2 separate regions of the Homo sapiens genome follow, and region 1 is linked to region 2. The links come from fine-mapping of genetic effects on gene expression. Tissue or cell type: monocytes after LPS. Region 2 holds a variant in brackets; the other region holds the start of a gene. All regions are shown on one strand. Distances are between the middles of the regions.

Region 1 (5,234 bases), 240 kb before region 2:
TGAAGCAGTAGATAAGTTATATCTGATTTTGGAGGTGGAGGAGGTCTGTTTGTGTGATCTGTAAGAGGAACAGAGATGAAGATTCATAGAGAAAAGCAGGTCCAAAACCAATATGCCAACATATAGAATAGACAAATGGGTGCTGAGTCACCCAGAATAATGGCAGGGTGTGGAGTGAAGAAGAGAACCAAGAGCCCAACTAGATCCAAAGTCTTAATTTTAAAAAGTGGGATGGAGGATGGTTGATGCAAATATAAGTGCTTCAAAAGAGCAGGAATTTCTATAAGAAGAAGTAATCATTTGAAAGCTGAACTGGAGCCCCATGAAGGAGCCACAGACTCCCTTTCCCAACCTTCGTGCACACAGAAATGGGCTCTGGTGGAAAATATGAAAGTGCATGAGAAATGATATTACTGTCCACACACTAATCTCATCCTTAATATCAACTGGACCTTGCTATACTAACTTAAGAGTGTTGATCAAACTTTCTAAATTTTTTTGATGCCAATTTTCTAAGGAAAAGAACTTCTTATAAGATTTTTAAAACAAGCTTGGTTTGCTGCACTATTTGCAATACACACACAAAAAGGTCACATTTCTGTGTCCTTTTGAGTAAAGTCATATCCATCTTTGAAGCCTCTCTCAGGACCACAAGCTGTTTTTTTTTCTTTTTTCTTCTTATGGCTTCATCACTTCACTGGTGTTATACCAGGATTTAGGAACCAAGCAATCCAAAGAAATGTGGGAGAGGCCTCGTCTGGCCAGTAGTCCAACATGATTGCCTCTGGAATTCACCATGAGACTCACAGTTCACCAGAAGGCAGAGGCAAAAATCAGAGTTGCCAATTAAAATTATTTCTAAAGATGGGTTCACTGCTTCCTATTCCCAAGCCTTTCTGAGACTCCATGGGGTGAATCACTTGCTTCTTTTCTGTATCTCCTCCTGCAGGCATTTAAGCTTTGTAATTTAGTTACATGCATACTTATATTTATCTCTTTCCAACAATTTTGTTCATTTCTGATATCTTCTATTGTCTTCCCTCCCAATTTCTGCCCTTTTCAGTTTTTACTATTATCTTGTGGTTTTAGGAAAAAGCAGATATAAATATGTGTTTAAGCAATGCTATGGTTTGAAGGTTTTTGTCCCCTTCAAAATTTTTGTTGATTCCTAATCCCCTATGCAACAGTATCAGGAGGTGTAACGTTTAGAAGGTGATTCAGGAGGACTCCTCATGAATGGGATTTGATGCCCTTAGGGCTTGATGGAGGAAGTTTGACCCCCTCTTGCCCTTCCACCTTCTGCCATGTGAGGACACAGTGCTCAAGGCATCACTGTGGAAGCAGAGACAGGAACTTCACCAGACAACAAACCTGCTGGCACCTTGATCTTAGACTTCCCAGCCTCCAGAACTATGAGAAATCAATTTCTGTTCTTTGTAAATTACCCAGTCTGTGGCATTTTGTTATAATGACACAAACTAAGACAATCAATCAGAGTTATATTTCCTTGTAAGTATAAATTTTATTTTTTTATTTTTATTTTTATTTTTTTTAAGAAGGAGTCTCGCTCTGTCACCCAGGCTGGAGTGCAGTGATGGGATCTCGGCTCACTGCAAGCTCCGCCTCCCGGGTTCACACCATTCTCCTGCCTCAGCCTCCCAAGTGGCTGGGACTACAGGCACCCGCCACCACGCCCAGCTAATTTTTTGTATTTTTAGTAGAGAGGGGGTTTCACTGTGTTAGCCAGGATGGTCTCAATCTCCTGACCTCATGATCCACCCACCTCGGCCTCCCAAAGTACTGCAATTACAGGCATAAGCCACCACGCCCAGCCGTAAGTATAAATTTTAAAATCACTTCTTAATTAATATAATAGATGAAATGACCCACAGAAGTATCCACTCACAGAAAGGACCATTTCTAAAGGACCAGTTTGGCCTATAAAGAAAATACAATAGCAGACCTTCACAAATTTTCTAACATCAGAAAAGAAAAAATATTTAGATATTAAACTGAATCAAATGTGATGGTCTTACCCAGACAAAGGAAGACTCAGCACCCCATTTCCAAGTTAACTGGGAGCTTTTGTGTTGCTCTTTTTGCCCCCCTTATATTTGATTCTGCTACCTGACCTTTAAACAGAAAAGCTTTCTCTTCTTGCTATCTATGTTTGTTATTTAAAAGATCAAAATATTAAACTCTTGCTATATCTATTTGTCATTTGAAAGATCAAAATATTAAATGATTGTGAAACATTTTTTGCAACTGTAAGAGGGTTGATACTTTTCCTGAATATTATTCATTCAACATTCATTTATTTCTTTGACAAATATTTAAGAGATGCTCATGATGTCCTAGGCATTGAGCTAAGAACTCAATGTTGCAATGTGGATAAGATCCAGTCCCTGTGTGTTCATACTTATTTAATACTATTATAGACAAGGCCTTTAATACATACCATAGTCATATATCAATTTTTAATTAGCAATATGAAATAAGAGAACAATGGGACTTTCCACTCAATTTGACAGGTGGCTAAATTTTCAGTTACTGAATTTACTATTTTAGGGTAATCTAGCACATGACCAAAATTTAAATGCACAGAACAGAAGATCAGAGTAAGAAGAGCTTCCATTTGGATTATCACTTTTTCTACTTGGAGTCACATACTGTACTTTAAATTGATTAAGAACATGTTAAAGGTCCAGGTGGTGATTTCCAGCTACAAGTCCAAAGTATAGAAGAATGTGTTTAAATCCTACGTTTATCAGATCCATAAATATAGTTCCTTCTATGTTAAGTGGCTTTATTTCTAAGAACCCAGCCCTCGGTCCTGGGGGTGCTTCCCAGCCCGCTGCTGGAATTCCTGATCGTGGCAGTCTGCTGAAACATGAGCTCAGTTACCAAATATAGCTGAGTGGAGTAAGAGGACAGATGAGAGTCTGAGGCCACAGTTGCCTCAAAGTGACCACGGACCAGGCAGTCTCTAATGAATAGGCAAGGCCACAACCTCCATTCTCCCAGAAAAGAAGAAATGCTCATCTGAAATTCATCACCTCTCTGGAGTCTTCAAACTGACCAAGCATTGAAAAGGTCTGTAAGGTGTATCTTAATATACTAACTAGTAGGGCAACATTTTAAGGACTTAAAAAAAAAAAAACTAAAAATACAAAAGTTTTTCTGAAGATATGATACTATTTACAAGATACCTTAATTATTCTTTTGCTTGGAGAGGAAACGTAATGAGAATGTTACGGTTTTGCCAAAAACAGATAATACGTAAGATTTGCCTGCCCACTTCATCTCTGCCTTTGCTGTCAGAGAATTACACTTTCTGTTATAAGCTTAAGCATGCTAAGATGGTGCTATCAATTCCAAAAGGATTAAATGTATTTATGGAGCCAGCTTTTGTCAAGATCGTGTATGTGTTATGTTTCACAGAAAAGGAAAACGCAGCTTTCTAGACCCTCACCCATATTTAAGCTAGATAAGTGATGATGGCTTAAAGTGATAGACCTTAGATTTCAGTAACATTATAAATTGTTAATTACACTTTCAAAAGATTCTAAAAGTAACTCACTGGACATAATTAAATGAGTTGGGATAGTAACAGCAGGTATTTTAAATTATATTCATGCATAAAATTTACATACATATTTTTAATAAGATAACGCTTACTAAGGGAAACCACAGTGCAATCTCGAGTCCAGTCAAGTTTAAACATCACAGAATAATTTTTATCATGTTGTTTTAAGTTGCACATGAAATTGTCTTGAATCCAATATAGGAGGTTGACATAAAATGATTTCAGGCTCATATTACTTATTAACATTTGCTAAAAATACTAATTGCCTTCTAGTATGAATAATGTGGTGACATATAAAGCCATTTCTTGGCAATATAAAACTATTACAAATCTATTCAATCACATATATGCAGAAATTAAATCCTCATTTCATGATAAATGTGCCTTCCAATGTTTTTTCTCACAGAAAGAACTTGAATACTCACCTCAATTATTCAGATTTTTTTTTCAGATTTTTAAAATCAAAGTCTCTTTGACAAGTTATTGCTAACAGCAGAAAAGGCCGATGAGGTTTATCTGGCCACTAACTGCCCTGTAAATACATGATTACACATTCCTAGAATATAAATTAGTCCTCTGGCATCCTAGAATCTGGTATGGATTAGGGTCTGTATCCCAGGGGTTCTGTGTCAGCTCTTCCTCTGGGTTTCTCTGTTATTGCTAGAGCTGAATATTAAAACTGGCCTTATAGCATATTTCACAATAGAATGAGGATCTGGATTGCACTGGACAAGTACAATCACTTTGACCTCCTTACCTCATTTTTTAAAAATGTAGAGGGCAATCATTATTCAGGTTTAAAAATAAATATGACAAGTTCTTTAAGAGATACCAAGTGGAATCTGCAAGGCCCAGACAAGAGCTCCACTTCTTAAACAATATGTGTGTGGAGGCTGTCAAAGGGTATTGCAATTACTGAGCTCCAGTTAGAAATTCAGGCCATCTAGAGTTAATGACTGTGTCCCGGTGAAATTACAGCAAAGAAAACAAAGATTGAACAAAGTATCTTCGACTAAAATTTCTAACTGTTAAATCATATTAGAGAATATAGAAGCAAATTTGGTAAATAGGTTTTGAATTTAAGTGAGAAGAATAAAGCCCTGAATTGGATAATGGTAATGGAAATGGATAATTCAGAAGTAAAATCTAAATATTTGCAATGGACTCAGTATGGTGAATAAAGTTGATAAGATGAACAGGACATGGGATAACTTCAAAAACTCTGTAAAGTATCTTATTTGGCTGTTTCTGCATTAAATGAGCTATTAGATTATGTCCTTGAAATTGAGATTAAATAAGCTGTTTAAAGAGATATTTAAAACTGTAGGATAAATATATCTGCCTGCATTGACAATTTAATAATTAGAAAGGAAAATAATCCATGTGTATTTATTAAGAAATAAATTATAAAATTGTAGTGCATTTTCTGCATCAAACATAAAATTTCATAAAATTTTCGTGTTTGACTTTTGCCCTAAAGGACCCTTTGTAGCAAAAAAAAAAAAAAAAAAAAAAAAAAGGAAGGAAGAAAGAAAGGGAGACGGGGAAGAAGGAAGGGAGAAGGGAGGGAGGAAGGGAGGGAGGATGGGAGGGAGGATGGGAGGGAGGATGGGAGGGAGGAAGGGAGGGAGACATGGAAGAAGGGGGA
Region 2 (5,234 bases):
TATTAATACCTAGCATATCAAAAATTACAGATGGCAACATTAATGAGTACTGTATAATATTTCTTGAAAAAAATAGTTAATTATAAAGCTTTCTTAGAAATAAAAGGAAAAGACTTTCAAGCATAGAGTCCAGGCAGGTATCTATCATTCTGCTTTCTTCCTTCATGGAATCAACATTTTTAGTTCCCATGTATGAGTGGAACATGCAATATTTGTTTTTCTTTGTCTGGATTATTTCACTTTACACAATGATCTCCCATTCCATTCATGTTGCTGCAGATGACAGCCTTTCGTTATTTTTTTATTGCCAAATTGTATTCCATTGTGTATATATACCACATTTCTTTATCTATTGGTCCATTGATGAGCATTTAGGTTAATTCCATATCTTGGCTACAGTGCTGCAGTAAACATGGAGGCGCAAGTATCTCTTTGATATACTGATTCATTTTCCTTTGGATCAGTACCCGGTGGTAGGATTGCTGGATGGTATGGTAGTTCGGTTTTTAGTTTTTTGAGAAATCTCCATACTGTTTTCCATAGTGGCTATACTAACTTACATTCCCACCAACAATATATAAGTTCCCTTTTCTTAGAGGCTGGGAAGGGTTTTTGGAGGAAGATAAAGAGAGCTTGGTCAATAGGTGAAAACATCAGTTAGAAAAAATAAGTTCTAATGTTCGTTAGCAGAATAGGGTGACCATAGTTAACAGAAAGTTGTTGTATATTTCAGAATAGCTAGTAGACAGGATTTGAAATGTTCCCAACACAGAAATGATAAATACTTGAGCTGATGAATACTCTAAATACCCAGACTTGATCCTTACACATTCTATGCATGTGACAAAATATCACATATCCCCCATTAATATGTACAAACACTTGCATCAACTTTTTAAAAGTCCAGACAAGAAAAAAGCCCATGTTGTTGATAATATAGAAGTTGCAGTCCTCTCCATCACACACGTCATAAAGGCAGCACCAGAAACAAGCCATTGCCCAAGATAAGGGTACCTATTTACTGCGTGAATTTTTGTTTCAGGTTTACTTTATTGCTGCTCTAATTAGAATTCTTGTCCCTTTGTTTCACACTCGTAGCATGTATTTATGTCATCTCTTCTCTGATTTGAAAGATACCATTGTTTCAGCTTAAAACAGCCCCTGGTTTGAAAGTTGCACGGGATGCTTATATAAACAACAGGCAGCATGATAATTCATTGCTTCCTCTTAATTCCCATGTTAGTTGAAACTGGAAAAAAAATGACACATGCCATTTTTAATAGGTAGTTGAGCTTCCTGTATAAAAAAAAAACTTGTAAATTTTGTAATGCTTCTTGGGACATATGTCAGTAATCATCACATGGTTTCAAGCACTGGGAAACATCTTAAAAGATGCTTTAAAGGATGAGTTACAAAAGAAGAAAAGTAGTCACAAGATTCTCTATAATCCCTGTTTGGTCACTCTACATTTTCCTTCTGAATGCACTTTTTGAGAAAGTAAACTTACTTCTTCTCTTCAGTGTCATCTGAAATTTTGATACTTTAAAGAGACCTTTGCAGTTTTGAATTTTGAATATAATATTCCTCAATGTATGAAAAACTACATTAAAAATCTAACTGTGGATGCCTATACTTGAATTAACAAGGAGTTTCATCTCCCAAAATTTCCTCATGCTGTGGTTTTTTTTCTGAGCTGGAATTGACAGATACTAAGTTTCTTAGTCAATCTTGCAGGCGCTTTCAGAATAATTAAGCCTGAGACTACCAGAAAGAACCATTAAAAATTAGAATCAGAGTTGGTGGTATGGAAAGTTCTTTTGAAAGATGGAAAGTTCTTTTGAAAGATGGAAAACATTAATTTAAAAGAGTTCAAGAGTTTAAGCCAAAAGAGCCAGTCAGGTTATGGAGCAAAAAAACTCTGCAAGATTACCACAACTGTACTTCTCTTTGAATAGATTTTCTACTGCCAGTTATATGAAATGGATATAAATCCTCCCATTCCAACAACTCAGGAACTTACTTAAGTGCAGGGTACGATAGCAACTGCAAACGAGTCTAAGAAAATAGGCTGAATGTCATTAAAATCCTTTGAAAATGTTCTGTGACATCTGTTTTCCATTTTGCTATGCTGTTTAATTAACTTCAGTCTTGCAGAATTGCAGAAATCTTATTTGTTCAAAATAGTATCTTGAAGGAAGAGAAGTTTATTTAATAGAGAAGACTGTTAAGTGTAATACGGGCTTGATTAACTTCATCTCAAGTTTTAAATGTTTCCCATTGGCTTCATGATCTATCCCTATATATGGCTCATTTCCATAAAACTAAATCAAACTCTGGATGGCGGATCACTCTTATCCAGTTGGTACTGCTGTCATGTTTCAAGGACACCAAAAATGGAAGAAATTACAGAGAATAGTGACAATTCAGAAACTATTCTTATTTGTCTTCATCGCTATAATATGAGGTCACTGGCTCCTGAGCTAGTGAGGAAATCCAAGTTCTAAAAAACATTCCTTCCTTATATTTGTTT[T/TG]TTTTGTGTGTGTGTGTGTGTGTGATCTTTTTGATAAGAATAGTTGTCAAGGCTGGGCGTGGTGGCTCACGCCTATAATCCCAGCACTTTTGGGAGGCAGAGGTAGGAGGATTGCCTGAGGCCAAGGAGTTTGAGACCAGCCTGAGCAGCATAGCAAGACGTCAAGACCATGGCTCTTTAAAAAAAAATAAAAGTAGCCGGCATGGTGGCTCATGCCTGTAGTCCCAGCTACTCGGGACAGTGAGGTGGAGGATCACTTGAGTCCAGGAATTCAAGGCTGCAGTGAGCTATGATTGTGTCACTGCGCTCCAGCCTAGACGACAGAGTACAATCCTATCTCAAAAACAAAAAACAAACAAAAAAGAATGGTTGGAGAGAGAGAGAGAGAAAGAGGAAAATAAAAAGAGCAATTCATCCTGCAAAGACCTAGAACATGAGTGCCTCTTCTGATGAGGCTCAGTGGTCCTGGAAAGCTCCTATTGGACAAATCTTGGAGAATAAACAGAAACATTTTGGAGAGGTGGGAGAGCGAAGGAACCAGTCTTCATTGACAGCTGACTTTATTTTTCGATTTGTCAGAGCACGCCAAAGCCCAGTGCCCTGTGACCAGGACAAAAGGGGAAGTGGCTGCATTTTGACATGTCCCAGCTTCACTAGAGAAAGCCCACTTGTTTCTGACTTTCCAGTGCGGGCAAAAGCTGGCAGATCCACCACCTGTGCTCTTGCTGCCCAGCATCTAGGGAGCTTTGCTATTCTGAGTGTTTCTGAGGAAGCCATATGGATGGTGCTCAACTGGATTTTTCTACTTAGAGGGCTTTATGGATTTTAATGTAGAGGTCGTGGCTTCTCTGCATCACTGGCAAGTGTTGTCCATCTCTCCGTCCTTCTTGAGTTCCATACCCAGTGCATCATGAACAAATCCATCTTTTTTATCTGACCTATGCTGTGTCTACTCTCTCAGCTCCTGCTTTTGCTTATCCCTCAAAGGGGAGGTGTTCTTAGCTCTCTGACCTCTGGGTTGATACAGAGGCCAAATTTATCCCAGGGAAGGAATAAGTACATTTGAAATAAGTCACTGAGAGGAGAAGACTGTGTGTTTTAAAGCCAGGTTTGTTTAAAGTGTTATGATAGTATTAAGATGTTCTTTCATTTTCATAGAAGTACTTCATTTGGCTAGAAGGTCAAATGCCTGGTGCTTTGAGGACCTGAACAGTTTCTGTTCCATGAACATACCGGACTCAGGAGTTCTTTTGCTCCAGATACTAAGTTATTAGAACAGTGTTTCCCAACTATGGTGAAAGAAAATCAATAATCAGAATTTTTTAGTAGTTTTCAGTATTTCAAAAGATCTAGTTCGTTTCACAGTTCAACTGAAATGATGGGTGTATTTGCATCTAGTGGCAATCATATTCACTATGTTAACCCTACATATGTTAATCATAAGCTCTGATTGACAGTTGTATATTTTCTGTTTAGCACTAAATAAGGAAAGAATTCTAGTAATTTATTGAATGTAGTTGGATTTCCTTCAGACTACAAAGAATGCCTTGACAATCTCACTCCCTCCTTTTGATTTTCAGTGATTCAGGTCATCTGGATTCCTGGCCTTCCTCCTGCTATTCTCTTCTGTAATCTCCATTTGCCCGACCACCTCCTACCATCTTTTAGTTTAAACGCCATTCTCTGCCTTCCAGGAGCTATAGACTAGAATAGATTGCCTTCTGTGTCCTCCCCAGCAGTAGAAATTTCTACTGCGTGATAACTCTCACGCAATTACTCTCTCAGGGTTCTCTGACACCAGAGATTGTGTTATATCTTATTCTTTACCTTGCCCCAGCCCCTGCCCTGGTGTTTGGCACATAATCTACACTCAATAAATATTTCTTTGTTTAATGGGTGGATTGAATTCATTGTCACACTGAGTGACATCCATCTGGATGCTTGATTACACCACGCGGCTATCATATTCTGAAGGAACATGATATCTATGAAGATCTCAATCATGGTTTAATCCCCAGCAACTAGCACAGTGTCTAAGACAGAAACTTAATATGGTTCAATTACTTTCGAGATTTTTTTTTTAATGGGGACACTACAGATTTGGATAAAAGACATTAATGATGATGTTTCCTGTCCTATCACTAGGCAGTTCTATGAAAAGGCACTCCTTTTTTCAAAATTCCAACTTATAATGTAAGATTTGATGGGTTTGTTCAATTCCTACTAAGTGAGCAGTACCATGATTTTAGGTCTGTAAGTAGCTTAAAGTTAAACTTAGAACTTTGGTTGGCGATGCTCACCCTGGTCTCTGTTATGGATAACAGTTTGAATGAGGTTGATGACTGGGTCTTTTAACTTGATGTCCTTGTTTATTTTCTGCTTGCTTTGTTTGGTCAGGTCTGGCATGGAGCCGAAAAATAAGAGCTTGCTTGCAGTTTGACTTTCACTGTGATTCAGTTTTGCAATCTTTTAAAAACATCCTTCAGGAGACCGCCATGTATCTATCTGTGGACATCTCCCAGATTTTCCAAAACAAGCACAAGATAAATAAGGGGGATTTGGAAATTTCCAAATTTTAACAGATGGGAATTTGCTTCCACTGTCTGAGAAATCTTTGCTATAGATAGAGGGGAATCCCAGAAAAAAATCTAAGTCTGAAAGCTCCACAGAGTTCTCTGCCTTTGCCTTCCCTGGAAAAGGGGTC

Direction of the effects. Positions count from the first base shown, and alleles are read on the strand shown. Sizes are in standard deviations (SD) of each study's normalised expression.
For the expression in monocytes after LPS of the gene that starts at base 2,951 in region 1, allele TG in region 2 goes with a higher level than allele T (moderate effect, 0.68 SD a copy in Fairfax 2014).

What was found. PIP is the estimated chance that this variant, and not a neighbour inherited with it, causes the effect.
Region 1: PALLD starts here. The variant in region 2 is fine-mapped to the expression of PALLD in monocytes after LPS (Fairfax 2014, PIP 0.95).

The regions. Positions count from the first base shown.
Region 1 is chr4:168,494,102-168,499,335 of GRCh38, forward strand. It overlaps PALLD (palladin, cytoskeletal associated protein), which reads left to right and starts at 2,951. Exons shown (of 22, transcript NM_001166108.2): 1 at 2,951-3,093. All of the region lies in intron 1 of LOC107986198 (a long non-coding RNA gene), which reads right to left.
Region 2 is chr4:168,738,814-168,744,047 of GRCh38, forward strand. All of the region lies in intron 10 of PALLD (palladin, cytoskeletal associated protein), which reads left to right. Among named protein-coding and RNA genes, the nearest start is that of PALLD-AS1, 93 kb to the left of the region's middle. The variant T/TG (reference allele first, on the strand shown) is at 2,531.